3 linked regions of the Homo sapiens genome follow. The protein of the gene in region 1 purifies or fractionates together with the protein of each later gene. This does not show direct contact. Each region holds a gene or a part of one and is shown in the gene's direction. Other genes may lie near its edges. The genes, in order: RACGAP1, KLHL8 and FAM98A.

The links.
Region 2: the proteins of RACGAP1 (region 1) and KLHL8 purify together in Homo sapiens (affinity purification with mass spectrometry; 2 studies listed by BioGRID and IntAct, with this or other methods). This does not show direct contact.
Region 3: the proteins of RACGAP1 (region 1) and FAM98A purify together in Homo sapiens (co-immunoprecipitation; 3 studies listed by BioGRID and IntAct, with this or other methods). This does not show direct contact.

Annotation. Positions count from the first base shown.
Region 1 is NC_000012.12:49,986,507-49,996,554, reverse strand, and holds the end of RACGAP1 (rac GTPase-activating protein 1), read left to right. Parts: intron 1-2,045; coding exon 2,046-2,141; intron 2,142-2,225; coding exon 2,226-2,424; intron 2,425-3,899; coding exon 3,900-4,005; intron 4,006-4,177; coding exon 4,178-4,310; intron 4,311-4,421; coding exon 4,422-4,557; intron 4,558-5,762; coding exon 5,763-5,871; intron 5,872-6,211; coding exon 6,212-6,287; 3' UTR 6,288-7,393; downstream 7,394-10,048.
Region 2 is NC_000004.12:87,215,508-87,226,853, reverse strand, and holds the start of KLHL8 (kelch-like protein 8), read left to right. Parts: upstream 1-6,235; 5' UTR 6,236-6,436; intron 6,437-6,585; exon of another isoform or gene 6,586-6,819; intron 6,820-8,666; exon of another isoform or gene 8,667-8,760; intron 8,761-11,346. UniProt on the Homo sapiens protein: Substrate-specific adapter of a BCR (BTB-CUL3-RBX1) E3 ubiquitin ligase complex required for The BCR(KLHL8) ubiquitin ligase complex mediates ubiquitination and degradation of RAPSN.
Region 3 is NC_000002.12:33,580,752-33,591,106, reverse strand, and holds the end of FAM98A (protein FAM98A), read left to right. Parts: intron 1-2,587; coding exon 2,588-2,772; intron 2,773-3,786; coding exon 3,787-3,867; intron 3,868-4,428; coding exon 4,429-4,545; intron 4,546-5,409; coding exon 5,410-5,577; intron 5,578-5,662; coding exon 5,663-6,331; 3' UTR 6,332-7,447; downstream 7,448-10,355. UniProt on the Homo sapiens protein: Positively stimulates PRMT1-induced protein arginine methylation. Involved in skeletal homeostasis. Positively regulates lysosome peripheral distribution and ruffled border formation in osteoclasts.

The DNA of each region.
Region 1 (10,048 bases):
GATTTTCTTGCCTCAGCCTCCCAAGTACCTGGAATTACAGGCATGTACCACCACCATGCCCGGCTAATTTTTTTTGGTTGTATTTTTTAGTAGAGATGGGGTTTCATCATGTTGGCCAGGGTGGTCTCAAGCTCCTGACCTCAAGTGATCCGCCCACCTCAGCCTCTCAAAGTGCTGAGACTACAGGCGTGAGCCACCGCGCCTGGTCATGTCCATTCTTTTTTTAATGTCTCTCTTTTTTTTGAGACAGAGTTTCCCTGTTGTCCAGGCTGGATTGCAGTGTTGCAACTTTGGCTCACTGCAGCCTCTGTCTCCTGGGCTCAAGTGATTCTCATGCCTCAGCCTCCCAAGTTGCTGGGACTACAGCCATGTGCCACCATGCTCAACTAATTTTTTTGTATTTTTAGTAGAGACGGGGTTTTGCCATGTTGGCCAGGCTGGTCTTGAACTCCTGACCTCAAGTGATCCGCCTGCCTCGGCCTCCTAAAGTGTTGGGATTCTAGGTGTGAGCCATGGCACCCAGCCTTTATGTCTGTTCTTGATTTATCAATACTGTCGTTGCCTCCTCCTGACTCTGTCCAATGAATTACTTGGAAGCAAATCTCAGCTATCATATAATTTTATCTGTGATAAAATTATCTTTTATTCTTGCTCTTATGTTAGACATACTTCATAATAGGTTATCAAAATGAAGTTGCTTATTTCCAAATATTTAACCAGTTTAATCCAAACTGATTAAATCCATTAAGAAATTATTTATTGCTGAGTGTGGTAGCTCATGCCTGTAATCCCAGCACTTTGGGAGGCTGAGGCAGGAAAATCACTTGAGCCCAAGAGTTTGAGACCAGCCTGGACAACAAAGCAAGACTCCATCTCTACAAAGAATAAATAAATAAGTTAGCCAGGTTAGTGGTGTGCGCCTGTGTTTGTAGCTCCTCAGGAGGCTAGGTTGGACTATTGCTTGAGGTGGGGAGGTTGAAACTGCAGTGAGCTGTGATCACACCACTGCACTCCAGCCTGGGGAATAGAGCAAGACCCTATCTCAAAAAAAAAAAAAATTATTATGTAAGTAACATTAGCAAGAATCAAAATGACTATCTTCCTACCTACTCTTCAGCAAATCAAATATTATTTTCCCCTGATCTTACAAGTTCTTATCCATGCCTGTACATTTTGTTTTGTTTTGTTTTGTTTTGTTTTGTTTTTGAGAGGGAGTTTTGTTCTTGTTGCCCAGGCTGGAGTGCAATGGCGCAATCTCGACTCACCACAACCTCCACCTCCTGGGTTCAAGCGATTCTCCTGCCTCAGCCTCCCTCATAGCTGGGATTACAGGCATGCGCCACCATGCCTGGCTAATTTTGTATTTTTAGTAGAGACAGGGTTTCTCCATGTTAGTCAGGCAGGTCTCGAACTCCTGACCTCAGGTGATCCGCCCACCTCGGCCTCCTACAGTGCTGGGATTACAGGCGTGAGCTACCGCACCTGGCCGCCTGTACATTTTTTTTACACATGTTCTGTACTCTAATATAGAACCATGGAGTTCTCCCCTACAGGTAGGTTTGTGTCATAATCAACTGATAAGATATGTTAAATAATTTTTTTTACTGAGAATAATGAAAGTATACACAATTTTTTTCTCTTGTTCCAGCTTTCTTCTGTTAGAAAAAAAAATCTGTTTAGAGTAATAAATTATTTTATATTAAAGGCTATACCTGTAACCTCATTATTGCTTGTTTTCTGCTGTCCTTGAGTGGATGAGAAGGAGGTAATTATAGCTGGTGGTCTTATTCCTTGTTCACATAACAGTGTGGTGTATATATGAAAAAGAAAAAGTGTGGTATATATGATAATAAATCAGTCCTGGTGTGGAGGTAGGAAAAATAATTGAGAGTCTCTGTTTTAATATATGCTTTGGGAATAGGAATGTAAAAGTAGACATGATGTCCCAGTTTGAGAATAAGATTGGAGGTGGTTCTTCGCATGTGGTCTTCATCTGTTGGTCTACATGGCGTAAATAATAATTTAAAGCTCTTTTTTTTTTCCAGGGAATGCTGGCAGACTTTGTGTCCCAGACTTCTCCAATGATCCCCTCCATTGTTGTGCATTGTGTAAATGAGATTGAGCAAAGAGGTCTGACTGAGGTAAGAGTCAACTGTAGGAGATGGTGAATTTGTTATTTGTGTTAATTCGGAGGTTTTTAAATAAAAATGTCATCTTGATAATAGACAGGCCTGTATAGGATCTCTGGCTGTGACCGCACAGTAAAAGAGCTGAAAGAGAAATTCCTCAGAGTGAAAACTGTACCCCTCCTCAGCAAAGTGGATGATATCCATGCTATCTGTAGCCTTCTAAAAGACTTTCTTCGAAACCTCAAAGAACCTCTTCTGACCTTTCGCCTTAACAGAGCCTTTATGGAAGCAGCAGGTAAGGGCAGATGTAATACTTGAATATGAATTCCTCCACGGCAGTAGTTTTTCTTACTCTCTTTATTTTTTTATTTATTTTTTATTTTTTAGACAGAGTCTCACTCTCGCCCAGGCTGAAGTCAGTGGCGCAATCTCAGCTCACTGCAACCTCCGTCTCCCAGGTTGAAGCGATTCTCCTGCCTCAGCCTCCTGAGTAGCTAGGATTACAGGCGTGTGCCACCATGCCTGGTTAATGTTTTCTATCTTTAGTAGAGATGGGGTTTCACCATGTTAGCCAGGATGGTCTCGATCTCCTGCCCTGTGATTTGCCTGCCTCGGCCTCCCAAAGTGCTGCGATTACAGGCGTGAGCCACCGTGCCCAGCCTCTTTTTTTTTTTTTTTTAAGACGGAGTCTTTCTCTGTCGCCCAGGCTGGAGTGCAGTGGCGCTATCGGCTCACTGCAAACTCCGCCTCCTGGGTTCAAGCGATTCTCCTGCCTCAGCCTCCTGAGTAGCTGAGATTACAGGCGTTAACGGTGTTATACCATGTTAGCCAGGCTGGTCTCAAACTCCTGACCTCAGGTGATCTACCCACCTTGTCCTCCCAAAGTGCTGGGATTACAGGCATGAGCCACCACACCTGGCCACCTTCCTCTTTTTATTAGCTCCTGCCTAGTACAATGCCTGAAACATAGTAGGTGCTCAAGTAGTTTGATGGATGAGTAACTGTATGCGTGTCACCCTTGCCTATCCTCTTGCTTTCTCATTACGTTATTGTGTACAGTGTTCTTCCTTTCTTTCCTTCCTCTCCAGTTAGGTTGGAGCTTTTTCAATTCTTAGAATATACCAAGTTTACTCCCTACCTTAAGGCCTTCACATTTGTTGTCTCAACCTGAATGCTCTTACATTAGATACAGTATGGTTTGCTCCTTTATTTCTTTCATATTTCTCTTCATATACCTTGTCCCCAGAAACACCTTTCCTGACAACCTTGTCTAGATTAACAGCTCTCATTTCTTTCTAGCTTCTTGCCTGCCTTGTTTTCTTCATTTATGTATCACTCTACCTGATAGGTATTTGCTTTTTGACTGACTCCACCAATAGAATGTAGGTTCCATAAGATAAGGGCTTTGTTTACTTCTGCTTTATCCTCAGCACTTGTACCTGGCACATCGTAGGCCCTTAAATATGTCTCATGAATGAATACCTTCTTGGTAATTGTAGTCACTGCAATTGTATGCCTGTCTGCCTAGCACATCAGTTGCCAACTGCTTTCCCTAACTGCAAAGGCCGATTTTTTAAAAGTTTTGACTTCTAATATTGAGCTGTTGGCCAGTATCCTGCTTGTTAATGAAACTAGAGTCTGATGTAGTCATGAACTAATCAGGAGTTTCAGAAGCTTACTGTATAGATGAGACTTTGTGGTCGATAACTTGGAAGCCCGCTGTCAAGGGAAAGAAGTCTAGGCCTCTTGGTGCTTTCTTTTCAATTACAGAAATCACAGATGAAGACAACAGCATAGCTGCCATGTACCAAGCTGTTGGTGAACTGCCCCAGGCCAACAGGGACACATTAGCTTTCCTCATGATTCACTTGCAGAGGTGAGTACAGCAGAAACTTGTTCTGGGAGTTAGGGAATTTTTTTCCAAGGGGAAGATAATGTGGGTTGAGTGTTTGGGAGTATGAGGGATGAATTGTTTTCTTATAGAATTTATATTTTGGTCTGCATTTAAGCAAGGAGCAAGACTTCTAATTTAATATTCTTTTGCTTAGAGTGGCTCAGAGTCCACATACTAAAATGGATGTTGCCAATCTGGCTAAAGTCTTTGGCCCTACAATAGTGGCCCATGCTGTGCCCAATCCAGACCCAGTGACAATGTTACAGGACATCAAGCGTCAACCCAAGGTAGGCAGGTGCGTGTGTGTGTGTATGTGAACTTGTGTAATGTGATAACTTGAAAGACAGTTGAGAAGCCCTGAGCTTTGGAAGTTTGCTAACAGATTTGCTGGCTTTTAGGTGGTTGAGCGCCTGCTTTCCTTGCCTCTGGAGTATTGGAGTCAGTTCATGATGGTGGAGCAAGAGAACATTGACCCCCTACATGTCATTGAAAACTCAAATGCCTTTTCAACACCACAGACACCAGATATTAAAGGTAAGGCCCAAGATGTGCTTCTTCAGGGACTTGACTCTCTCTTTAGTTTTAGTCATATGACCTCTTCCTGCCTTTGCTAGAGCTGTTTGAAAATTCTAACATTAAAGGAAAATTTGTATAATTCTACCATCGTAATTTTTTTTTGCTTTTCCATGTTCTCCTTTCTTTATCCATATGGATATATGTTTTTTAAATATAGATATAATAGGCTGGGCATGGTGGCTCACACCTGTAGTCCCAGCACTTTGGGAGGGAGGCTGAGGCGGACGGATCACAAGGTCAGGGGATTGAGACCATTCTGGCCAACATGGTGAAACCCCATCTCTACTAAAAATACAAAAATTAGCTGGGTGTGGTGGCGCATGCCTGTAATCCCAGCTACCAGGGCGGCTGAGGCACAAGGAATTGCTGGAACCCAGGAGGCGGAATTTGCAGTGAGCTGAGATCCCGCCACTGCACTCCAGCCTGGTGACAGAGTGAGACTCTGTCTAAAAAAAAAAAAAAAAAAAAAAAAAAAATATATATATATATATATATATAATAGTTTAAATATAATTCATTCTTATTTCACTTAGCATGTTGTGAGAACTTTTTCTCATGTATAATCTTATTTATCATTTACTTAAATGTTCTAGTAGGTATTAACATTATTTTTCAATTTTTCATAATTACAAGTAATGCTATAGTCAATATAGCATTTCTCTTAATGATAAATTCCTAAGAGTGGGATCACTGAATTAAATGGCTTGAACATTTTTATGTGTCTTGGTATGTTTTACCAACTTGATTTATTAAATTTCTTATAGGCTTTTGCCAATTTATATTGCTAACCAACAATTTTATATGAATAGGCTGGTTTCACTCCAGTCTCACTGGCATTGGAGACCCATTCTTTCATTATTGCAAGTTCCTTCTAAGGGAGCATATTGCTTCTTCTAGTATAGCTAAAAGTCAGATGTTTAGATGTTAGATTTGTGAAGTGTGGAGTTAGAGAATGGCCTAAATCAGGACGTGTCAGCTATTCATTGAGTTCAAAAGATACACTAGTGTGTTACAGAATGATGACAAAAATGATCTCTGGGACTTTGCTAGATGTCTAACCTTAGCTCTTAAGTGCTTCAGAGGGTAATCAGCTTAAAACTAGCCATCTAAAAAGATGCCTTCTTTTTTCCCACCTCTCTTAAAAATATGTCTGAACTTTGAAGTGAGTTTACTGGGACCTGTGACCACTCCTGAACATCAGCTTCTCAAGACTCCTTCATCTAGTTCCCTGTCACAGAGAGTCCGTTCCACCCTCACCAAGAACACTCCTAGGTATGCAGAATTGGCCTTCCTAGGAAATAAAAAACAACTACTTTCTTAGACTTCTTATTATATTGAAGCTTATTGAAAGAAAAATTGCATTCGATTTTAGCTAGCAACTAGACTTTAAAAGGGAACGTGGGGCTATAAGGATTCCTTCTTTAAAAAGGTTCTGAAAGTCTTTACTATTTCCCCTCTCTCGTTGTTGGTGACTAAGAATACTTAAGCAACTATTGCAAAATAGTTGTCTAGGGTTTCCTACTTATAATGGGTTATATCAAGTAATATTATAGTTGTTTATTCAACCATTTTTTATAGAATATTTTTCCAGTTCATTCTCTTTTTATTGTAGATTTGGGAGCAAAAGCAAGTCTGCCACTAACCTAGGACGACAAGGCAACTTTTTTGCTTCTCCAATGCTCAAGTGAAGTCACATCTGCCTGTTACTTCCCAGCATTGACTGACTATAAGAAAGGACACATCTGTACTCTGCTCTGCAGCCTCCTGTACTCATTACTACTTTTAGCATTCTCCAGGCTTTTACTCAAGTTTAATTGTGCATGAGGGTTTTATTAAAACTATATATATCTCCCCTTCCTTCTCCTCAAGTCACATAATATCAGCACTTTGTGCTGGTCATTGTTGGGAGCTTTTAGATGAGACATCTTTCCAGGGGTAGAAGGGTTAGTATGGAATTGGTTGTGATTCTTTTTGGGGAAGGGGGTTATTGTTCCTTTGGCTTAAAGCCAAATGCTGCTCATAGAATGATCTTTCTCTAGTTTCATTTAGAACTGATTTCCGTGAGACAATGACAGAAACCCTACCTATCTGATAAGATTAGCTTGTCTCAGGGTGGGAAGTGGGAGGGCAGGGCAAAGAAAGGATTAGACCAGAGGATTTAGGATGCCTCCTTCTAAGAACCAGAAGTTCTCATTCCCCATTATGAACTGAGCTATAATATGGAGCTTTCATAAAAATGGGATGCATTGAGGACAGAACTAGTGATGGGAGTATGCGTAGCTTTGATTTGGATGATTAGGTCTTTAATAGTGTTGAGTGGCACAACCTTGTAAATGTGAAAGTACAACTCGTATTTATCTCTGATGTGCTGCTGGCTGAACTTTGGGTTCATTTGGGGTCAAAGCCAGTTTTTCTTTTAAAATTGAATTCATTCTGATGCTTGGCCCCCATACCCCCAACCTTGTCCAGTGGAGCCCAACTTCTAAAGGTCAATATATCATCCTTTGGCATCCCAACTAACAATAAAGAGTAGGCTATAAGGGAAGATTGTCAATATTTTGTGGTAAGAAAAGCTACAGTCATTTTTTCTTTGCACTTTGGATGCTGAAATTTTTCCCATGGAACATAGCCACATCTAGATAGATGTGAGCTTTTTCTTCTGTTAAAATTATTCTTAATGTCTGTAAAAACGATTTTCTTCTGTAGAATGTTTGACTTCGTATTGACCCTTATCTGTAAAACACCTATTTGGGATAATATTTGGAAAAAAAGTAAATAGCTTTTTCAAAATGAACATGAGGCTGGTTTTCTTGTCTTGCAAGGTAATTTTCAATGCCTTTTAGAAAATCATTTCTGGGGCTGGGCTTGGTGGCTTATGCCTCTAATCCCAGCACTTTGGGAGGCCAAGATAGGTGGATCACCTGAGGTCAAGAGTTTGAGATATGGCCAAACTCTGTCTCTACAAAAAATACAAAATTAACTGGGCGTGGTGGTGCACACCTGTGGTCCCAGCTACTTGGGAAGCTAATGTGGGAAAATTGAGCCTGGGAGGCAGAGGTTGCAGTGAGCTGAGATCGTGCCACTGCACTCCAGCCTGGGTGACAGAGTGTGAGACCCTGTCACAAAAAAAAAAAAAGAAAAAATTACTTCCTTCAAAGTGTCTTGACTCTGTTGTTCATCCCCATTTCCCACTCTCTGGACCCACCCCAGGCTTACCACCACCGGGAGTTTGTTTCTTCATTTCTCATCCAGTCTCTCTTTGTCCAAACTGGAGTTGTAGAGTTGTCCTATGCCTGTTGTCTTGTTTAAAGAAACCACAGTCATGAGTTGCATAATGACAGGGATACATTCTGAGAGGTGCTTCATTAGGTGATTTCATTGTTGTGTGAACCTGAGTGTCCTTAAACTAACCTGGATGGTGTGGCCTACTACACACCTAGGCTGTATGGTATAGCCTATTGCTCCTAGGCTACAAACCTGTACATCATGTGACTGTTCTGAACACTGTAGGCAGCTGTAACGCATGGTAAGTATTTATGTATCTAAACATAGAAAGGGTACAGTAAAACTATGGTTATTATAATCTTATGTGACTACTGTTGTATATGGGATCCCTTATTGATCAAAACGTTATGTAGTGTGTGACTGTACTTAAAAAATAAAACAACAACAACAACTTTTTAAACAAGTCTTTAGGGACCAGAATGGTGCAGATAAAAAAAAAAATTGCCTCTGGCTGGCTGACTGCCTAGAACATCCTTCACTGCTGGAAGTGACTTTGGAGTGAGCTGGGATGATTAACTGAGGGCACCTGCACTTGGAACTCTGAAGCTGGTGAACAGAATGTATCTGAGATTGAACGTAAACAGTTGTAGGCTTAATATGTAACTGTGGAGAGAGGAGGCAACCTACTGGCTTTTTTCCCAGGAGGGGGCAGCTTCACAGCAGGGCCCATCTGCCTCAGCAAATTGACAGAGGATGGGTCCCATACCCCCTTTCACACACGCCTGCTAGGCCTTGTTTTTTAAAACTGCCCTAGATGCTACCTCTTTTCTTATGTCTTTGCAATCCTAGCGTTGGCCTGGTTCCATATTTGCTGTTCTGTAGTATCTCCCCAAGGTGCATTTTCAGTCACTAATGTAGAGGAAGTAAATGGATTGTGTAACATTAGTGAAGGCAAGGCTACCCTATGCAGGAACCAATGGTCCATTAACGAAAAAGGAAATGGTCCTGTGTGTCAAATGTTGGCAACCATTTGCTCAGTTTTTGGGCTAGGCCAAGAGACCTTAGCCATGAAAATAATTCTGATAATAGCAAAGGGAAATATATACCCACCTTCAACTTCTTTAACAGTACTTCCTGCGGAACAGCCTGACTTTCCAGGGCCTTCTTAATTATACCTCCTCAATGTGAGGGCTGTGGAAGGGGGTCCAGTGCTTTGGAGTAGCCATCAGTCCATCTCTTACTCCTAACCCTTTCTGACATTCCTCTCTTTTAATGCAGTTTAATTTTACTATCGCACTTGCTAATAAACAGAATCTTTAAGTTGTGATATTTACCTTTATTCTCCCTGATCTATGTAAGACTCCCTAGTTTGATGTTTATCTAACTGGGCAAGCATTACATGGTTGGATTCAGCTGCAACAATTTGAGTTTATTACTGGGTGTTTAACAACTTATCCTTCCTTAAGAGGGTGAATTCATTGCTTGCAGAGATAGAAGAAGGAATGTGAGTTTTGGTCAGAGGACATTTAGGGTGCGCAATTGATTTACCAGGGGAAAAAAGTACTCATTTTTGGTTATGAACTGAGCCTGTGGCATTGAAATTGGTCTTGTGTTCTTTTTATTTTATTATTTATTTTATGCCTCCCAAGTAGCTGGGACAACAGGCATGCCCCACCATGCCCAGCTAATTTTTAAATTTTTTATAGAGACAGGGTCTCACGATGTTGCCCAGGTTGGTCTCAAACTTCTGGACTTAAGTGATCCTCCTGCTGCAGCCTCCCAACAAAGTGCTGGGATTACAGGCATGAGCCATTGTGCCCAGCCAGTTCTTGCATGCTTAAATTATTAGGCAGCACAAAATGACAAGGAGAGCTGAGGGAGTACAGGGAGCAAAGATACCAGGCTTGCTGCTTTTGTTTTGTTATGGTAGGGTCTACCTGCACACCTATCTAGCTTCAGATAGATTGATATGGTTTGTGTCCCCAGCCAAATCTCATCTTGAATTGTAGTTCCCATAATCCCCACGTGTCATGGGAGGGACCCAGTGGGAGGTAATTGAATCATGGGGATGATTACTAACCTCATGGTGTTCTCGTGATAGTGAGTTCTCACAAGATCTGATGGTTTTATAAGGAGCTTTTCCCCCTTTTGCTCTGCACTTCTTGCTGCTGCCATGTGAAGGACATGTTTGCTTCCCCTTCTGCCATGATTGTAAGTTTCCTGA
Region 2 (11,346 bases), on another chromosome or scaffold:
TATATAATATATATATTATTTATAAATAATATATATTATATATAATATATATTATATATAATATATATTATATATATAATATATATTATATATAAATAATATATATTATATATAAATAATATATATTATATATAAATAATATATATTATATATAAATAATATATATATTATATATAAATAATATATATTATATATAAGTAATATATATATTATTTATATAAGTAATATATATTATTTATATAAATAATATATATATTATTTATATATATAGAGAGAGAGAGAGAGCGAGAGAGAGACAGAGTCTTGCTCTGTTGCCCAGGCTGGAATGCAGTGGCGCGATCTCAGCTCACTGCAACCTCCGCCTCCTGGATTCACGCAACTCTTCTGCCTCAGCCCCCAAGTAGCTGGGACTACAGGCGTGCACCGCCATGCCCGGCTAATTTTTGTATTTTTAGTAGAGACAGGGTTTCACCATGTTGGCTAGGCTGGTCTTGAACTCCTGACCTCAACTGATCCACCCACCTTGGCTTCCCAAAGTGCTGGGATTACAGGCGTGAGCCATCGCGCCTGGCCTAATATAGAGCTATATCTTAATGAAAGAAGTACTTTTCACAGACATCGTACATTTGGAATACAAATTGCAATGGAAACACAATTACATTTGTTTCACTGTGCCAATTTCTACCATACATATGGATACAATTTTGCTCAGAAGTATGTGGCACATGTTTCAAAAATAGTTACTGAAAATCAAAGTTTCTCTAAATGTGTTTTTTTCTGGTAACTAAAGTCACAGTTCTTGAATGTGGTAGGGATGGAGGCAAATTGCTCTCATTCTGTCATTTCTCATATTGCTCCGGAGAGAATTCCACAGTTCCCCCACATATTCAGCCTGAGAATTCAACCCTATCTAGGCAGGTTCATGGGAAATGGAAACTGATTAGACTTGGGTATGATGGAGTAATAAAAATAAAATGCTAAAAATGAAAACAAAACAAAAAAACAACAACACCCGCATTTCAAAAGTCACCAGCACTAGTAATTTTCAAAAGAAATGATTTAGAGCACCAACAGAACTAGCAGTGGTCATAGCAAGGATGATGCTTTCTGTTTTAGCTTCACCCACAGACCCACCCCCAAACTACCTAAAATAGATATTCAGTGGAAACAATAACTGTGTGCCTGTAAAGATATCTTCAAGTAATGTCCTCTAACCCAGAGCTGCACCCCTACTCCTTTCATTCCAAGTTTTAACTCAAATTCTGTCTTATATAGATATTTTGGAGCCACCAGTGAGACTTGACTATTGTCCTTTAGGAAGCAACAGAGACCTTATGGCCCCAAACCCTAAAATATTTACTGCCTGGCCCTTGGCAGGAAGTAGTTACCGAATGGTTGTTTACTGAGCAAAGTTGATATGCATCCATTTATAGTCCAAGTATTTATTAAGCATCTATACATCAAGTACTATGCTGTTATTTTCTATTTAAGGAGATTTCAGACAAATGAAAGATATAGACAACTTCTTAAAATGCTCACTAAGTGCTACTTTAGGGGCAAAAATAAGTTGTAAGATGAGCATATATAGGAGGCAGTAACCCAAAACTGGAGAGGGGGGACTGTAACCAAGAAAGGTTTCCTAATTAAAAAGTTTTCTAAGTTAATACTAGATGATTAGAAAGAGTTCACCAGGCAAAGGGGTAGAAGGAACAGCAATTACAAAGACCCACAGAAAAATTGGGAACTTTAAATATTTCAGGGATGCTGGGTGCTGTGACTTGAGCCTTGTAATCCCAGCCACTCCGAAGGCTAAGGCGGGAAGCTAAGGCAGGAGGATCCCTCGAGGCCAGGAGTTCAAGACCAGCCGTGGCAACATAGCAAAATCCCCCCATCCCCGCACCCCACCAAACTCCACCCCATCCATCTCTTTAACAAAATAAAAACAAAAACAAAACAACAATATATATCAGAGAAATATATCAGAAAATGGTCAGCAAAGGTTTAGAGATACCTATGTCAGGCTGATTGCATGGTAGTGGATGGAAGAACTGTCATTAATTTATTAAAACAGCACAAGTTGAGCCACCAGCCTAAGGTCAGAAAACATAGCCATCCACATGTGTGTCTTAGGATAAAAGGCGGGAAATGATTGTTGAGGGAAGCTGAAGTGCCACAGTAAAGGCTGGTTTTGTAGGAGGGTGACAGGATAGGAGTCAAAGGATTGGGATGAAATGTAACTGCAAGCCAGTAACCCTGACCTGGACAGGAAGATAGTGGTCTTGCTGGCGGTGTTCAGGCTCTTTAAGTACGTTTCCATAGACAAAGAACCTTAGCAACTCTTCTGGGACCTGCTCTCTGGTTGCAAGCTTTGCCTCCCTAGCAAATGAAGATAAAATAACCTTCTTCATTAATCTTTCCAAATCCCTCGGCAAGCCACATCTGAAATTCTTTCCCTGCTCCCCGACTCCTTTAAGAGAAAGAAAAATTGTCTGGCTCTGTCATCCAGGGAATGAGCCACCATATCCAGCCCACATCTGAAATTCTTTTGATGGTTATAAAGCCTTTTATCCCAGGATTAAAGATAAAGACTTAAAATGCAAATGTTGGCCGGCGCGGTGGCTCATGCTTGTAATCCCAGCACTTTGGGAGGCCGAAACCCAGCTACTCAGGAGGCTGAGGCAGGAGAATCACTTGAACCTGGGAGACGGAGGTTGCAGTAAGCCAAGATCGTGCCATTGCACTCCAGCCTGGGTAACAAGGCGAGACTCCATCTCAAATTTAAAAAAAAAAAATGCAAATGTTGATTGGGGTTAAAATATTGCAATTTTTTTCTGACTAAAGTACAATCATAAAATGAACAAACAGCTATCAGATCCTTTCCAGTTTTAATTTATCGGACTTTGAGGGAAGGGAAGGAATTTCTTAGATCCTTACTTATTATAGGCTAGTCTTGCTTATTCTCAAATGGAGCTAGGGAGGAATGGGTAAAAACTAAGAAGACATTTCGTCCGATTTAGGAAATGTGTGTTTTGTTTTAGTTGAGGTATGTCTTATTTTGTAAGATACTGTATATATTTTTAAGTAATTATTTGAGAGCATTGTTACAGATATATCACTTTTTAGGGAAAGATTTTTTTTGCCCCAGTTTATAGCTATTTGGTTTAAAAATTTCATTTAATTTTCAGAATTTTTGCCAGACTCCTCTGCCCCAATAAAAGGCTCTAGATTAGGTGTATCTTAGGTGCTCCCCAAACCCCTGGCCACCCCATGCATACCTTTTCATTATTCACTGTTTAATTCTCTGTCTCCGAGTCTAGATCCTAAGTCTCCATGAGAGCAGGGACTATTCAATTTTGTCTACTGCGTATTTCCCAGTTCCTAGCTCAGTGTCTGGTGCTCAAAAAATGTTCTTCGATAAATAGATGATAATAATATTGAAATATTGTGTATATTTCTTTGATTTGTTAGTAACTACAAATAGTTTATTGTGTATATGTCAATTAGCAGAAGAAAAAGAGCAGTTGTGCTCTTTTTTATAAGCATTTTTAGGAGTTACTGTGCACCTTATTACAAGAAAAGTGGCCAGGAATGGTGGCTTACACCTGTAATCCCAGCACTTTGGGAGGCCAAGAAAGGCAGATCCCTTGTGACCAGGAGTTTGACAACCAGCCTGGGCAACATGGAGAAACCCCATCTCTACAAAACAAAACAAAACAAAACAAAACAAACAAAAAAATTAGCCAGGTGTGGTGGTGTGGGCCTGTAATTCCAGCTACTCGGGAGGTGGGAGAATCACCTGAGCCGGGGAAATCAAGATTACAGTGAGCCATGATTGTGCTACTCACTGCACTCTAGCCTAGGCAACAGAGTGAGACTCTGTCTCTAAAATAAAATAAATAAAATAAAATAAAAGCTTAGGCTATAAAAAACAAAATTTCTATTAACATGGTCTTACTAAATACATATTGTAGGCCGGGCGTGGTGGCTCATGCCTGTAATCCCAGCACTTTGGGAGGCTGAGGCGAGTGGATCACTTGAGGTCAGGTGTTCGAGACCAGCCTGGCCAACATGGTAAAACCCTGTCTCTACTAAAAATGCAAAAATTAGCCGGGCGTGGTGGCAGACACCTGTAATCCCAACTATTGCAGAGGCTGAGGCAGGAGAATCACTTGAACCTGGGAGGTGGAGGTTGCAGTGAGCTGAGATTGTGCCACTGCACTCCAGCCTGGGCGACAAGAGCAAAACTCCGTCTCAAAAAAATAAAATAAAATAAATAAATAAATAAAATACATATTGTGTTTTATGTTTAATAAAGGGAATACAGGGAAGCTTTCCCTTTTCCCTTGGAAGGTTCACTGAAAAATCAACTGTCAAATGGCAGACTAATAGGAAAAAAGACATACAAAATTTATTTTAATGTGCATAACACAGGGAGATTTCAGGAGAATGATTACCCAATGACTCAATGGGGTAGAGACGTTTATATACTCTTCTTTATGGGGGAAAGGGAGATTGGGGAAATGTGGCAACTTAAGGTATAGTAAAGGACTTTTAGGGGAAAATGGGGAACATACAATGGCCTGGGAAAAAGTGTGTTGAGCCCATACAGCAGACAATAGTTTGTGACAAAAGTCTGTCCAAGAGTGTTGACAGACTTCAGTCTTTCTTCCTCCAATATGAGTTAAGTAAATGAAAAATCAGGTAAGGCAAATATGTTCCTCTTTGGCAGGTCTAGTTTCTAGGCAGATAAGGGAAATTCAGAGAACGACATCATTTGGTGCTTTGGGAGAGACAAAGAATTGAGAGGCAGGAGGGGTAATGGGGAAGGTAAGAGACACCTTGAAGCTGCTTCCTCAGTTCAGCGCGGCAAAGCACCATATTTTGGGGTATCGATTTCTGAGTCCCAACAATTTTTACATCACGTTCCAGACACATTTTATGACTTTTCTTCACTGCATACTTCTTTAAAACTCATCTTACTCTATTTTTCTAAAGGTATTTGCATTAAATGTGCAAAATACTAATGCTCTAAAGAGGAATATTTTGAAATATTAAGAATTATTTATATTTCAATGTAAAAAATGTGATTTTTTTTCTAGAAATAAAATTTCAAATTCAAATAGTTGCTTTGGGGTTTTTATAGAAGATGCATATATATATACAGATATATATATGTTCATTTCTATTAAAATCAATGTGCTAATGTTCATATGTGTTAATATTAATAAAGGTCCTAGGATTAAATTTATTCTGAAATAGACTCCTAGGATTGTGAAAGTTTGAGGTTAGTCTGGCAAAAGACACATTTAGGGGAATATCTTTCTTTAAAAAAAATTTTGTTTTTTTGCTGTCTCTTGATCTCCCGCCTCACACATTCCACTTTATTGACATTATAGAAAAATTAATTCATTTCAACAGCACTTTTACTTGCATTGCTTTTTTTTTTTTTTTTTTTTTTTTTAGACGGAGTCTTGCTCTGTCGCCAGGCTGGAGTGCAATGGCACAATCTCAGCTCACTGCAACCTCCGACTCCCGGGTTCAAGCAATTCTCCTGCCTCAGCCTTGCGAATAGCTGGGATTGGTGGCACGCACAACCACGCCCAGCTAATTTTTGTATTTTTAGTACAGACGGAGTTTCACCATGTTGGCCAGGATGGTCTCGACTCCTGACCTCGTGATGCGCCCGCCTCAGCCTCCCAAAGTGCTGGGATTACAGGCGTGAGCCACCGCGCATGGCCACTTGCACTGCTTTTTAGCAGCGAGCTCTCAGGTCAATCAACTGCTTCCTTAGGTTTACAAACTGTGGGTGTGTATTTATAAACACAGTTGTTTTGTATATCCTTTGTAGAGCACGTGGTGAAAGTGACACAGGAATAAATGCAAACCTTTTTTTCCCCTTCTTTTTTCAAAGACATAAATCCCAGGAACACTCACAACCGCAGAAGGGGATTTGATGGACATACAAAGAAACTAAATTTTGTACCGCCGCAGAAGTGAAGCATGGATAAGCTCAAAGGTATTTAGGCAGTGTTTTATTTCAAGATTTGTTATGGGGACCTCCGCCACGCCCTGGTCCGCCTTCACCAGGCCGGGCAACACTGCCCAGTCCCTGAGACCCGGCCGCCCACTAGGGAGCCGCGGGGGCGAGGCCGTGGGGGTGGCCTCGGGGAGGAGGTCCCGAGAACCACACTTCCCAGAGTGCCGTGCGCAGCCCCGCCCAGCCCGCCCCGCCCCCAGAGGCCGCGGCTCGCGGGGGCTGAGGCGAGAGGACGCCAAGCGCCCGCCGGGGCTCCGCGGGGCCGCGCAGGAGAGCGCGCGTCCGCCGGGTGCTCGCGCGGGGTTGGTGAGGTTCCGCTGAGGGCGGCCGGGGCTCTGGGAGCGTGGTAACGTGGCTGCAACCTTAGCGACATCAGGAAGAACAGGGTCGAGGATCGAGGTAACGGGACGCTCGTCTCCCCTCAGTCCCCTCGTCTCCCCTCAGTCCCCTCTTCCTTTGTGCGGTGCCGTCCGCTCGCGCCGAGCCCTCCCTCACCCCAGCCCCCAAGTCGCAACACCGTCCCGTCTTGGGTCTCCGGTGTGCGGAGGAAATTCGAGCCCTCGTGCACCAACCGAAACTCCACAGCTGAGAGGGCTTGGGGCCCGGACAGCAGGAGATCCAGCCCCTGAGCAACCTTCCACGGCTTTTGTCGCCCCCATTGGCGGGAGGAGCAGGGTTATGCTCCCGGCTCCCGTAGGGGAGCTCCAGCCTCTGGCTCTGTCAGCCTCCCCGGCAGCTCCTTGACTCCTTCCTCCCAGTCTTTCGAAGAGGGGCCCAGGCAGGTGCTTCGCGGGGTCCAGGAAGAGGGCAGGCGCGGTGCGGCTGGCGCGGGTTCGGGGCCCCGGGAGGGCGGCCGGACGCCCCCTGGAGCCGCGGCCTGCGGGGGCGGGGCGAGTGGGCCACCTCCGGGCCACGCCGCGCGGGGACGAGGCGAGGAAGGCACTGCCTGTCCCCACTCGGGGGGCTTGCTGGCCGCCCTGGAGGTGCCTTCCCGGGAGCGGCGGTGTAGACCTTGTGGAGAGTGCCTCCTGATGTGGAACCAGGAACCGCAGCCTCTTTCTAGACGCTCAGCCGCCCGGTGGAGTTGTTACCGCCACGATGACAGCTCTTTACGCCTTCCACTCCGTGCTGGGTTCAGTTGGCTTGCTGTTTTCTTCAGAGAGAGCGATTTGGCTACATAGCTTGAATTTTCTACGTGTCTCGTGCTTTACTGGACTTGCACTGTTTTTCCCTCTTGGCAGTGTTTAATCGGGTGACTTTTCATAGAAAACGTTCAGTATTTTCATCTGTGTTAATGGCATAACTTTCTTCTTGACTCTGCCCTAAGCTAATGTTACCAGTTTAGAGGGATACTTTGGGAAAAGGTCCTTAGAACCTGGGTTGACATAAGTATTTTATCTGCTGGTTGCACGTTTTTTCCTTTGCATTGTTTTTCTCCTATACAAGATGGTAATTGTTGGACTCTTGGTGTTCTTTATTCTCTCTCTAGAAGGAAATCCTCTTCGCGCATCTTTCTCGTGTTCTGGCCCTGCGGTACTCTTGGGTACGCAGAGGACTGCTGCTAACAGTGCTGGCGCCTGGAACGCTGCTTGGAGATGGCGGTGGCATTAAGCTGCTGCTTTTCCTCAGACTTCCTCCTGGCACCCTTCTTAATTTGTCAAACTGACCCAGTTCAAACTTCAAACTTTTAGTCACTTTATTTATTTCGTCACTTTTTAAAAAAATTGCTTTCAAGATACCAAAATTGCGTAAGCCTAAATATAAAAAGAGGTGTCTCAGGGGCCGGGTGCAGTGGCTCACGCCTGTAATCCCAGCACTTTGGGAGATTGAGGCGGGGGGATCACTTGAGGTCAGGATTTTCGAGACCAGTCTGGCCAACATGGTGAAACCCCATCTCTACTAAAAATAACAAAAATTAGCTGAGCGTGGTGGCACATGCCTGTAGTCTCAGCTACTCGAGAGGCTAAGACAGGAGAATGGCTTGAACCCGGGAGGCGGAGGTTGCAGTGAACCGAGATCATGCCACTGCGCTCCAGCCTGGGCGACAGAGTGAGACTCCATCTCAAAAAAAGAAAAAAAAAGTCTAAGGATACTCTATTCAACTACATATGAGCACTTAGCTTCATCATTTTAATTTTTAAAGCTGCCAATTCTTTTAGCATTTGATAAGATTACTGATAATTGGTTAAGATGATATATTCTGTAATAATTGCACATTTTTTGACAAGAAACTCAGTTCACATTCAGTGAGGGTTATTTTTTAAAAACAGTATTTCTTCATTCATTAAGAAGAAAGTTAGGGCCGGGCGCGGTGGCTCACGCCTGTAATCCCAACACTTTGGGAGGCCGAGGCGGGCGGATCAAGAGGTCAGGAGATCAAGACCATCCTGGCCAACATGGTGAAACCCCATCTCTACTAAAAATACAAAAAAATTAGCTGGGCATGGTGGCGCATGCCTGTAGTCCCAGAGACACGAGAATCACTTGAACCTGGGAGGTGGAAGTGAGCTGAGATCACGCAGCTGCACTCCAGCCTGGCAATAGAACGAGACTCCATCTAAAAAAAAAAAAAAAGTTGGGTAAATTTTGATCCCACCTGCTATTTTGAAAAATGAATTTTCTTTTTTAGAGCAGTTGTAAGTTCACAACAAAACTGAGTGGAAGGTATAGAGATTTCCCATGTATCGCCTACCCCTACAGAGCCAAAATCTCTCATCAGAGTGGTACGTATATTACAATTGATGAACCTACATTGACATGTTATCACATCCACAGTTAGGATTCATTCTTGGTGTTAAACATTCTGTGGGTTTGGACAAATAACCCTTTTGTTTTTATCAAGAACTTTTGAGAGTTGTAGAGAACTGAAATGGATATTGTCATTTTAAAAAGATTAAAGAGACTATTGCAGACATCTTAAACATTAATTTCAGATAGTTTTTGTGTTTTATAAATTGAATGTTTAAATTTTTGGTTACTTATATTGGAATTCCCAAGAGTCACATTTATTTTTGTATATTAAGAACTAAAGGGCCCCACATGGTAGCTCACACCTGTAACTGCAATTTGGGAGGTCAAGGCAGGAGGATTGCTTGAGCCCAGGAGTTTGAGACCATCCTGGGCAACAAAGTGAGACCTTTCTCTATATTCCAAAAAAAAAAAAAAAAAAGAGGCCAGGCTCGGTGGCTCATGCTTGTAATCCTAGCACTTTCAGAAGCCAAAGCAGGCCAATTGCTTGATCCCAGGAGTTCCAGACCAGCCTGAACAACACGGCGAAACCCTGTGTCTACAAAAAAACAAACAAACGAACAAAAATTACCCAGATGTGGTGGTGTGCACCTGTGGTCCCAGCTACTCGGGAGACTGAGGTGGGAGGATCACCTGAGTCCAGGGAGGTCAAGGCTGCAGTGAGCCATGATTGCATCACTGCACTCCAGCCTGGGTGACAGAGTGAGACCCTATTTCCCCCCACCCCCAAAAAAAGCAAGAGATGAGGGAGGATAAATGTTTCATAAAATAACAAAATGTTGTTTTCAGTCGCTAAAATTCACTTGACTATGTCTTTTTTTTTTTTCTGAACAAAATGGTTTATATTAGCCAAAGAAACAAGAGGGAGTTGAGCATTTTAAATAAATTAATTTTTGTTTACTCATGTCAAGATATGTCTGCAATAAAAATGTCACCCATTAGTCTATTTTTAAAAATTCTGTTTTCTCTGTTTTGAGGAGCTTTTATGGAAGCACCAGACTATAATATTGTTCTGAGCTCACTTCTGGTACTACACAATTCTCTATTAGAATCCCAGATCTCCACTTATTGGCTGTGTGAGCATGGCAAGTAATTTTCTAAACCTCTTTCCTTAGCTGTGGAAGGGGGATAAAAATAATACGTACTTCTATTTTACCAGAATTGAGGATTATTTGGTGTTGTATGTGAAAACATTCTCTAAGCTATAATCAACTATAATATTCATTGATATTACTAGTCACATGCTGTATTTTAAAATGCTGCCAGTACAATTTATTTTCTGGTGGATATTGCTATATAGATACTGTCAGCTGCTTTTTTTTTAAATGGGTTGGTCATGCAAGAAAGTATATTGTTTGGTTTGGTTATGAATGATTTAGTTGGTTCTTATGAGTCAGAGAGAGAATTATGGAAGAGGGTTGGAGGGACCTTGGGAAATTTTCTACTTCATCTCTCTGACTCTTAACCTGAATCTGTTAGCGTGAGCATAAATGGTCTTCCAAGGGTCTGTGAACTCTGTATATTTATACTTTTCTGGGGAGAAATTAAATGAAAATTTATACTTTTCTGGGGAAAAATTAAATTAAAAGAGCATCATGACCTTGTTCCCACTAAAGGTTTAGGAAACCACTAGCTTCAATGATCTAGGCAGGTTTCTTTAGTAAAAATGTTAGAGATTATTTTTAAAATTAGTTTTTTGTGGAAAGGAAAGAGAAACAGGTTATATTGCGGAAAGGAAAGAGAACAGGCTATTTTTGAAGCACTGAGTATCTGTTTTTCTTCCAAAGCTAGAAGTTGATATTTATGATACACTACCTTCATATGAATAATAGTGCTGCTACTTCTACCTGGAAGTGGTACCTTTGATTGATTCATTATCATTAGGCAGGTATTGTCTACTCCTCTCTTCTTCCCCACCCCCAGCCTTGATGGGCAATACAGTGGAGGCAGAGAATGGGACTTTAATACAATCCAGCATGTCAGAATATTATTTAAAATGCCAAAAGATAATTTGGCTTGTTTATTCTAAATTTGGATGTTCTTTGTTTTCACAACAAAACACCCAATGTTAAAGAAAATTAAGTGTTTAATCTTTCAAACTAGATGATGATATATACATAATCTGTTGTATGATATTTCTTGTATATCATAGAGTATAAAATTTTATTAAATCCTAATTGATGATCACTTTGACTTTTAGTACTGCTAGTTTGAAAAGATGGATATGTATGTTTTCAAGAAATTTACAGTTTGCTTTTGTAGATTATATTATAATTTGTGATTTTCATTTATAACATTTAAAACTTATTTGCTTTTTTTGAATTTCTGAATCGGACATACTTTTAAATCTGAGTTTATTCTTATAAGAATAAGCGTTTGGAATTTTGCCCTGTTTTCCTTGTATAATGATTGCTGGGCTATAAGGCTTTACAGTGTAAAACCAAGTTCTGTTCTGGATCAGTTACTAGTAGCATTCCCAAGGCTGGGAGAGTATGAGGTGGATCAAGTGATGCTAAACAAACTTGTGAATGAATCTGTCCATCAAGTAATGTCTTTTTCCT
Region 3 (10,355 bases), on another chromosome or scaffold:
GAATGTGCACGTAAGGTTAGGTGTTGCTTTAGATACTGATATTGCTGCTGGTAGTTCTTACATATTCATTTAATATTCTTCATATTGTACAATTTCTGTAACTGATTCAATAGCAGTATACTCAGCTGATTCTTCCTTTATAGCATTGCTTATCCTTTACCAATATTTGGCACTTAGAATATGTTATCTACATAGGAAGATAATAGCTGTGTGGAATGCTTACTAATGACCCTGAATAGCTAATTCTTCCAAAGAGCTCAGAGTTTGGCCTTTTTAGCACTGATACTTATACAAACCACTTGAATGTAAGTATAAAATGCCTTTCACACTTTTCTGTTTCTTAAGCAGACTTCAGTGAACATTATTTTGGACTCAGGGTCATAATTCTAGACTTTATTTTAATCTGCTATCATCACCTCAAATGCTTTTCAAGAATATACCACTATTTGCTCTTCAATTAAATGACTAAATCATCTAGAGGTCACTCACTTTTTATATTCTTCATACATACATATATACACACTGTTTCCCTCTTTATCTTTGCTTCTGCCGATTCTCCCTTTCTAAAATATTCTCCCCAGTTTGTAACCTCTCTTTCATTCTAGCATTTACCTACATGTACTCATTTTTGACTTGGTCTATGTAAATATTTCTCATCTTTTGAAGTATCAGTTGTCACATCTGGATGCTATAATTTTACTTTTCCAGCACCCTTACCTCACTAACTTGAATCTTTTATCACATTGTATTTTAGGGGGGAAAACAAACCAGCCTCATTAGAATTGTTGGAAAAATAGAATAGCCTTTGAGTGAGAGGCTGAAAAGCTCTCATGTATCAGATTAAGGACTCTGTTTGGCTCTTCATTGGCCTTTTATGGTTCTCAGAGTGTTGCCCTTACGTAAATTAAGTAAGATGTCTGAGTTCCTAATAGATGAAGAACTATTCATCTTTTATTTTTGCATATACTCTTTATTCCTAACTAGATTATCGGAAGAGGTCATCTTTTTGATGTTTTAAAAAATGTTATCTTCAGTGCCTTTCCCAGTGCTTTGAACATACTGATTACGATTAAAGTTTTTTCATGATAATTATATTGGTAACCTAATTTTGTGAATACCTGAACTATGTTATCCCAAATTTACAGAACCAATATATTAAATCATATAGTATATGATTTTCTAGAACAAGAGTTGGCAAACTTTTTCTAAAAGGGCCAGATAGTAAATATTTTTGGCTTTGTGGCCCTAAGTTCTCTGTCACAACTACATACCTTTGCTGTTACAGCATGAAAGCAGCCATAGACAATATATAAATGAGTGAGTGTGGCAGTGTCCTAATGAAACCTTATGTACAAAAACAGTGGTTGTTGTCTTAACAGTGGGGTTTTACTGTTTTGACGTTTTAACTCATAAATACAGTTTGCTGTATGGAACATGTTAAGATTTTACAGTGTCAAATCCATTTAGAATGACCTTTCCAGAAACTTAGCTGTATTTATTGTTTTAGAACAGGAGTTGGCAGCCTTTCAGAAATGATTTGCCAAAATTATGGCCTCTGTCCTTCTAGCATTACATTTTGGGTATAGGAAATTTGATACACAAGTTGACTTTTTTCTACTTCTAATAGGACCTGAGGGCCTTGAAAATATCTTTTCCCAAAACTGGTTTTGTTATATTGTCAGAAGAATCTCACTTTGTCACATAACCAGAAATCCTAAGATTCAAATGATTCTTAATCATCTTTTATAAAAATTGAAATGTCCTTGGGAATGTTAAAGGAATGAGATTGAATATTTATACCTTCAACTGAATTACCTGAAACAGATTGCAGCCCCCATTATACCAGGCTGAAATCAGCACACAAGGGGATGATACTGACACAAAGGGAACCATGCCAAAAAGTGCTTTGAAGGTTTTATGGTTGTTTTGAAGGGAATGGGGTGAGGAAAGTAGGGGGAAGGGAGTCCTGAGAAGAATATAGATGAAAGAGGGCTCTCTTTGATTAGCCAGAGGGCAACATAAGATTTGGAGACCATGGGAAAGGAGCTCTGGGGTGCCTTCCTGCTTCTCCTGTGAGTTAAGCTTTGACTTCTTATAAATGTTGTTTCACACCTCTTCTGGACAGGCTCCTAATTAATGGGAGACAAGAGAGCAAGGTAGTTGTGTCATTGATGCTCACAAGTAGTGAGAAGTTAAAAAAAAAAAATTAATTGTCATTAAAAATTGGTCACCTGCCTTCTTTTGCAAAATTTTTAACAGATGCCAACCCCTGTTCTGGAGGTTCCTTAATACCAGAATTCAAGATTCCAAATTTTTAGATGTTACTTACCTCGATCCTTCGGTTTCAAAGAGAATCGCTTATTTTAAAATTAACATTTAAACATTATATATCGCTTAAATAACTGAATTACATAACCAGTTTATTTCTTATTTCATTTGCAGGTAAAAGTAGTTTTTCTTTCTTGTTTTTATCCATTCTTGCAGCTTTAACAGTTACATATCAATAGGTCTATATAGTTGTGACTCCAGACTTATGACTATAACTATAGCTGTATCTCATTTTGAAATCTTATTTTGTTTACTTCAGCATACCTCATCTCAGAACTAGAAGCTGCCAGAATGCTCTGTGTGAATGCTCCTCCAAAAAAAGCTCAAGAAGGAGGCGGTAGTGAGGTCTTTCAAGAGTTGAAAGGCATATGTATTGCTCTAGGAATGTCCAAACCTCCAGCCAATATAACTATGTTCCAATTCTTCAGCGGGATTGAAAAAAAAGTAAGACCTTTAGTACCAAATTGTAGTGTATTAAAGGCATAGTCCTACATTTGTTTGAAATGAAGCAATTAATTTAATTTCTCTTAATGGGAACCTAATGTGCATATATTATTAAGTAATTGTTACGAAATGAGTTTTGGGTTTTAAATCCTAGATGCCTTAAAGATAAATTAGTATTTTAGTATTTTCCTAAAAACATGTTAGCATGTTTCTTTTTCAAAAAGGAAACTTTACACTGGTTTGTAAGCTAAAGTAAGCTAGATATAATGTAAAAAGGATTAAGATTTCAGTCCTTTTAAAAATTATTTTATCATTGAACTTTGATACAGTCAATTTAAGTTCTTTATCACTAAATGTTACCACCCTCCTCCCCATTGACTGGACAGAAAGGATATTAATATTTTTGTTTTTTAATCCAGTCACTTCAAACCTCATGCTTCAATTGACAAAATAGATTTGTTGACTGCTAACATAATCTAGTATGTGAAAAGAAATTAGAATTATTTTTATACCACACATTATCAGTTAAGATTTTCTATATAATTAATTAGGAACAAGCAATTTTAACAAAAATGAGTAGAAGAGAACGGTATTTGTTAAAGCACAGTTATTCCCTATACGCTTATCTGCTGGACTCTTAAGAATTGGTACATTTGCATTGTGGGGTAGACCAGCACCATGATGCACAAATTTGGCTGAACTCTACAGGGGAGCAGCAGTGTATCCATAGTCCATATTTTCCTGTGTGTTCATTCATCCATTCAGCAAATGTTCATTGAGTGCCTACTGTTGTCAGGCACTGTTCTAGGTGCAATGAAGGACTTCTGTAGGCGTGAGGAGTGGGACCAGTGAGTGTCTTTATCTTGTGGGTCTTTTACATTTGCATTTCAAAACATCCTCCACCTTTGCCTCTGTCAGGAATCTTCTTTTGATGGCAAGATATGATGGGAATTGGGAAGATGAGGATGTTTTACTTTTAGAGTTTTTATTCATTTATTTATGTTTTTGTGTCAGTTAAAGGAAACATTAGCAAAAGTTCCACCTAATCATGTGGGAAAGCCTTTACTGAAGAAGCCAATGGGACCAGCCCACTGGGTGAGTAGTAATCATCTTGAGTAAACTTTGTAAAGAACTATAGAGTTTATGATTTTCATGTCAACACTTACATTTTGTGCTTTTTAAATTATGTTTTCTTATACATAGTTTTCTAGTTGAACACCCTTAGAATCATTTTGTGAATCTCAGGATTTCTGCAGAATATTTTTATTTGTGTAAGATTAGAAGCACTTTTCTCATACTTTGTAAATATTTCACACAGCTGATAAAAGTAAACTGAAATTAAGTATGGTGCATGTTTCTCGTTGCCAAATGGATTGCCTTCAAGCCAAAAACTTCACTGGGCTGAGCTTCACACAGTAAATTATGGGAAAGATAAATAAGAATTGTGTACTTCACATACTCTTCATTATGTTTTGTGAATCAGCTTTTTGTCACCTATCATTTCATTAATTGTTAGTATATTATATGGAATAAGAACTTTTGACTGTTAAATGGCCGGGATCTCAGTTATGAATGACACAGACGTAGTTTTTGCCCTTTTGGGACAGAGAATCAAGCAGATTTAAACTCTAACTAGTCTTTTTAATTTTGCTTCAGGAAAAGATAGAAGCAATTAACCAAGCCATAGCCAATGAATATGAAGTCCGGAGAAAGCTGCTAATAAAACGTTTGGATGTCACTGTACAATCCTTTGGCTGGTCTGACAGAGCTAAGGTACACATTAAATAATTTAAAAGAGCAGACTATTTATAGACATGATCCCTGAACATCTAAACAATTTAGCTACTTGGCAACTATGGGAGAAGTACATAGAAGACACACATAGGGATTTTTCCTTAGTGAGTTATTGAGTAGTGGCTCTTTCAACTATTCAGCAATGATGAAAACATTTATTTTTCAATTTTCTATTTTTTAACAAATCTGAATTTTACAGTTCTTATTGGAGAGAGAAGTTCTTATTATGAGAGAAATGGAGTTATTCTGAAAATTACTAAAATAATAAATTGATTTCAAATTACTTGTTTACTTTAAATAATTTAATTTGCTAATAGAAGTTAGAAATATTGGATTTGGTATGATTTATAGACAATTGGAGAATTTGGTAAGACTTAAGTTTTTTTTCAGCTAAATGAGACAATCCAGGTAAAGACCTTGGTCATTCAGCAGATAGTTATTACCTCATAGAAACCAAAGATAGGAAAATTAAAAAGCAAAATTGTTGAAATAGCTTTATATTCTTATATTTAAATAGAGAAAATGAGTATGTTTGATCTGAGACCAATGATGGGGGAACCTTTTTATCACGTTGGCCTCATAACCCTAAAGGGGCACCCTCTCACTCCACCCCTGCCCCCACAGTCCCTGTCACTCCTTGTTGTGTCAACAAGTCTGGCAGCTGTACTTTTAAGGTAGTTCTTGACTATGTAGGAGCAGTAGTGAGTATATAACTTTTCCTACCATCTAGAGCCTAGTAAATATCATTATCAGATATTTTGGAGACCTTTAACTTATTTAATATGTGTTTCTTATGTCATTTTGAAAATTGACATTTCTCTTTGAACACTTTTCTTTCAACAGAGCCAGACAGAAAAATTAGCCAAGGTTTACCAGCCGAAACGTTCAGTCTTATCCCCTAAAACTACTATTTCTGTTGCCCATCTTTTGGCTGCAAGGCAGGACTTGTCAAAGATTTTAAGGACAAGCAGCGGCTCTATAAGAGAAAAGACTGCCTGTGCCATCAATAAGGTGATTAGAGTACCTTTAATTTTTTCCAAATGCATTTATTTCTGTTCATAAAATAAAAGTTTAAAATATCTTTCCTATTCTGTAGGTGTTGATGGGCAGGGTGCCTGACAGAGGTGGTAGACCCAATGAAATCGAACCTCCACCCCCAGAGATGCCACCGTGGCAGAAGAGGCAAGATGGCCCCCAGCAGCAAACAGGAGGCCGAGGAGGAGGGAGAGGTGGCTATGAACATTCCTCATACGGAGGACGAGGAGGTCATGAACAAGGAGGCGGGAGAGGTGGACGTGGTGGCTATGACCATGGTGGCCGAGGGGGAGGAAGAGGAAATAAGCATCAAGGAGGCTGGACAGATGGAGGGAGTGGTGGAGGAGGTGGCTACCAAGATGGTGGTTATCGAGATTCAGGTTTCCAGCCAGGTGGCTATCATGGTGGCCACAGCAGTGGTGGCTATCAAGGCGGAGGTTATGGTGGCTTCCAAACATCTTCTTCATATACAGGAAGTGGATACCAGGGTGGTGGCTACCAGCAGGACAATAGATACCAAGATGGCGGGCACCATGGTGATCGTGGTGGTGGTCGTGGTGGGCGAGGTGGTCGTGGAGGCCGAGGTGGTCGTGCAGGCCAGGGAGGAGGCTGGGGAGGAAGAGGGAGCCAGAATTATCACCAAGGGGGTCAATTTGAACAGCATTTCCAGCATGGAGGTTATCAGTATAATCATTCTGGATTTGGACAGGGAAGACATTACACTAGTTGAGGCTACCGAACCTTACATTTTGCTAGAGCTCAAGTAATAGAAACTTAGTTTCAGAATCCTGAATTCAGCACCTATTTTGAATTAATGTGAGACCACAGGTGGCAGGCAGATTCCTGCTTGGCATAAGCATTTGTAGGTCTTCATTCAATTCTGTTAGATTTTTTTATTGGACTTACATAATGCCGTTTATTTGAGAAACACATAACATCTCTCCTTTCTATGAAAAATTTTTTAAAAGGTGGTTAAAATTGCCTTTAATTGCCCAGTAGACTAATTCCACAGTCAGAACATGCAAACTTTTTTGAAGAAATTACTTGAATAAGTAGTTTTCATGTTTTCAATATGCAGTTTTGAAAATGAGGATTCACCTAGACTTTTTTAGATTTACTACTAGGAAACCTTCCTCATATGAATAACCATTTATATGTGTTTTGCTTAAAGTATTCCAATGCCTATTTTCCAAGCACAGTTCTGCCCCCCGGTTGACTTTTATGCCACGTGTGCTTCATGATGGAACTTTTAGGTCAGTTCCTATTAAATGAGCTCTTTTGCAGATAGCACATTCAGTAGCCTTATTTTGTTGATGGAATACTGTATCATATGCTCAACTCTGAAAACCTTGAACACGGCCAAAATCCATAAAGATTATAAAAGCAAACTAAGTTGTGAAGCTATAGTACATGTAGGCATTTAGTTAAGTATAGCAATTCAAACTGACCTGCATCCATCCAAAACAAATTCCTCCTTCAACCTTATTTTTACTTGAAATTTGCTAGAAGAAATAGCAAACCGAAATTTGTTTTATGCATGAGTTAATACCACTGGCTCAGCAAATACAAGTTAGTTTGCTTTAAGCAGGTAACTTTTTTTGTAATGGAAGAAATGCACTACAAAGTTAAGACAGATTTTTGCTAAGTGCAGGAGGCCCTTTATTATTGCTGCAGAAAACAAAAGCCTGGCTGAGTTGATGTTTTACATTCTCCCTTACTGAAATCTACATGACATGATGCTTCTTGCTGGGTTTTTGTACATGTAAACATTGTCAAGCTGTGAAAGAAAATGGCTGGAGGTGTGCTTTGTGTGAAAGGTGAGCAATAAAGTATCTGTTAAGTTCTCTCTTTGGTTTGAGTTTTATTTTAGCTACTGAATTATTCTGGACTCTTGCGTCAAGCTGATGAGCTAAGGCTTTTGTTCCCAAAGATTCTTGAGTATTTCCTTAAAACCTAATTTTAGTGAAAGGTGACTTTTATCCTAAAACCTTAAATAAATGGAAAAATGGCTCTTTCCAGGTTTTCCTTTTATAATAATATAGCTAGAAACCGTCACCACTCATCTCTGGCCACTGGGTGTAGCTGTTGCTACACATACTAGGCAAAAATGTTTTTAGGGTTTTTTTGTTATTTGCTTCTCCATTCTTCCTAAGATTGGGGGACTTTTTTTAAAAAAGGAAGTAACTGAAAATATAAATATGTTTATCAAAAGAGAAATTGTATTTCCTTTCTACTAAATTGGGCTTTTTTAAAGAATCAACTCATGTCATGCCATTTAAAATAATCTACTTGCTACTGAGATAAGCACATTCTTCTAATACTAAAACCATCTTTGAAAACCCACATTGATCCTTTTAACTTTACCTGTTTATTTTTCAGCTAACATTTACAATTATTTTAAAATGTTCAAATTTGAAGACAATTTCAAGTGTTTTATCATTAAAGTAAGTTAAGGTTTTAAGTTGTCTTGAATGTTGTGTTGGTTTCTTTAAACTGTTAAGTAATTATGTTTATATAGGATTTCCTATTAAAATTGTCAAGGTTTCATATTTTAAATGTATCATATCTTAGGATGTATTTATATTTAGTATTTGCTTTGATCTGTTTTGTAGCCTCAGACTCCACAATATAGCTAATGAATACAGGTTTCATTCTTTTGAAAAATATTTTGATTTATCTTTACGGTTAATAGATTGCTTTTTCGAATATAAGGATGTAAGAACACAAATGATACATTTCGCCCTGATAGTTCTGAAATCTGCAGCTCCTGCTTCAAACTAGATTTTCCCCCAACATTATTATTTTTTAAAAAACTTCTATGTTCAGGGGTACATGTGAAGGTTTGTTATACAGGTAAACTTGTGTCACAGCGGTTTGTTGTACAGACTATTTCATCATCCAGGTATTAAGCCCAACACCCGAAGGTTATCTTTTCTGTTCCTCTAGTTCCTCCCACCCTCCACCCTCAAGTAGACCCCTATCTGTTGTTTCCCTCTTTTGTGTTCATGCGTCTTCATCATTTAGCTCCCACTTATAAGTGAGAATATGTGGTATTTGGTTTTCTGTTCCTGTGTCAGTTTGCTAAGGATAATGGCCTCCAGTTCCAGCCTTGTTCCTGCAAAAGACAGGATCTCATTCTTTTTTATGGCTATATGGTATTTTATGGTGTGTACATGTACCACATTTTCTTTATCCAGTTGGTCATTGATGGGCATTTAGGTTGATTCCGTGTCTTTCCTATTGTGAATAGTGCTGCAGTGAATATATGCGTGCATGTGTCTTTATGGTAGAGTGATTTATATTCCTCTGGATGTATACCCAGTAATGGGATTGCTGGGCCGAATGGTAGTTCTGCTTTTAGCTCTTTGAAGAATCGCCATACTGATTTCCACAATGGTTGAACTAATTTGCACTCCCACCAACAGTGTATAAGTGTTCCCTTTTCTCTGGAACCTTACCAGCGTTTGCTGTTCCTCCCCCGCCTCTCCCCATTCTGAAACCATAAAAGAATTGAGTTTTTTCTCTTGAACATAGATCAAGTTCTCTAGAAACAGGATATTTCAAACCACCAGTTAGTTTTATTGTTATATTAAAGTTCTTAGGTTTTGTATAGAGAGTATCTTTTGATCTTATATGCATTCTTAACCTTAACTTGTAAATAATGATTTACTGGAATATAGGGCATATGAGAATTTCTTGGAGAAACAAGCGAAAAATATTAGGAGAGAATTTTTAACATGATATCTTAAACTGTTATCTCTTAAAACGGATACAGTGAGACAGACAGTACCTTTAGTTAATGTTCTGTTTCCTCCTACTACTAGGAACTAGAATAGGATGTCAGTATTCTCTATGAAAACTATTAAAGATATACCACTATCATTTTTATTTCTTGCTGTAGATCCAAACTAATCTAGTGTCCAACTGTGGTAGACATAGAATAGGCAAATTCTTGCTGAGGGAAGGCATTTGAATCATTTCTATATATACTTAATTGATTTCCCAGTGCCCAGATTACCTCCATCCTTAGACTTAAATATTTTTAGGTTGTGCCCATTGTATCTTTCTGGATACTTTGTCTACCTATATTACATCCTTTTGAAAATAGTTTTTAAATATGTTTATATTATTTAATCATACCCCCGCCTCCCACTTTAGGTAATTTGGATAGCATTTGATCCATTTGTTTTTTAACAGAGAGGGTTACCTAAATAAAATTTAGGTATTTATTTGTATTTTACCTAAATAAAAAAATGAGTTTACCTGAATGAAAAAGTACATTCATCACAGAATACTTAGCATTTTATGACTTCTTATTTTCCTGTTTTTCTTGTTTTTCTCATTCTTCATTATCATAGTAATAACTAGAAATGCTTTTTTTTTCCCTGTGGTTTCCATATTTGTATACACTAATGTATTCCTAGGGTTCAAATCACTGATTCAAACAGGTATGCATGTCAGTGTTTGAACTCACTTTCCGCTTGCACAATTTTAGTCACCTGCAGATGTGCGGTTATAAGTTGGAGTAAACATAACTGTTGGTATGAGAACTTCCACAGTAAATCATTCCCTGCCCACTAAATGTAATAAAGAGGCCGGGGGCAGAAATAGATAGGGAAGAAAAAAAAAATGTTTCCTAGGAATTTGGGTCGGGGAGAAAAAAACCTCTTAAAATGATTGGTATTTGTTAAATTGAGTTATAATTTTTTCAAGAAGAAAAAAGGCCTGGCCAGGCACGGTGACTCAGCCTGTAG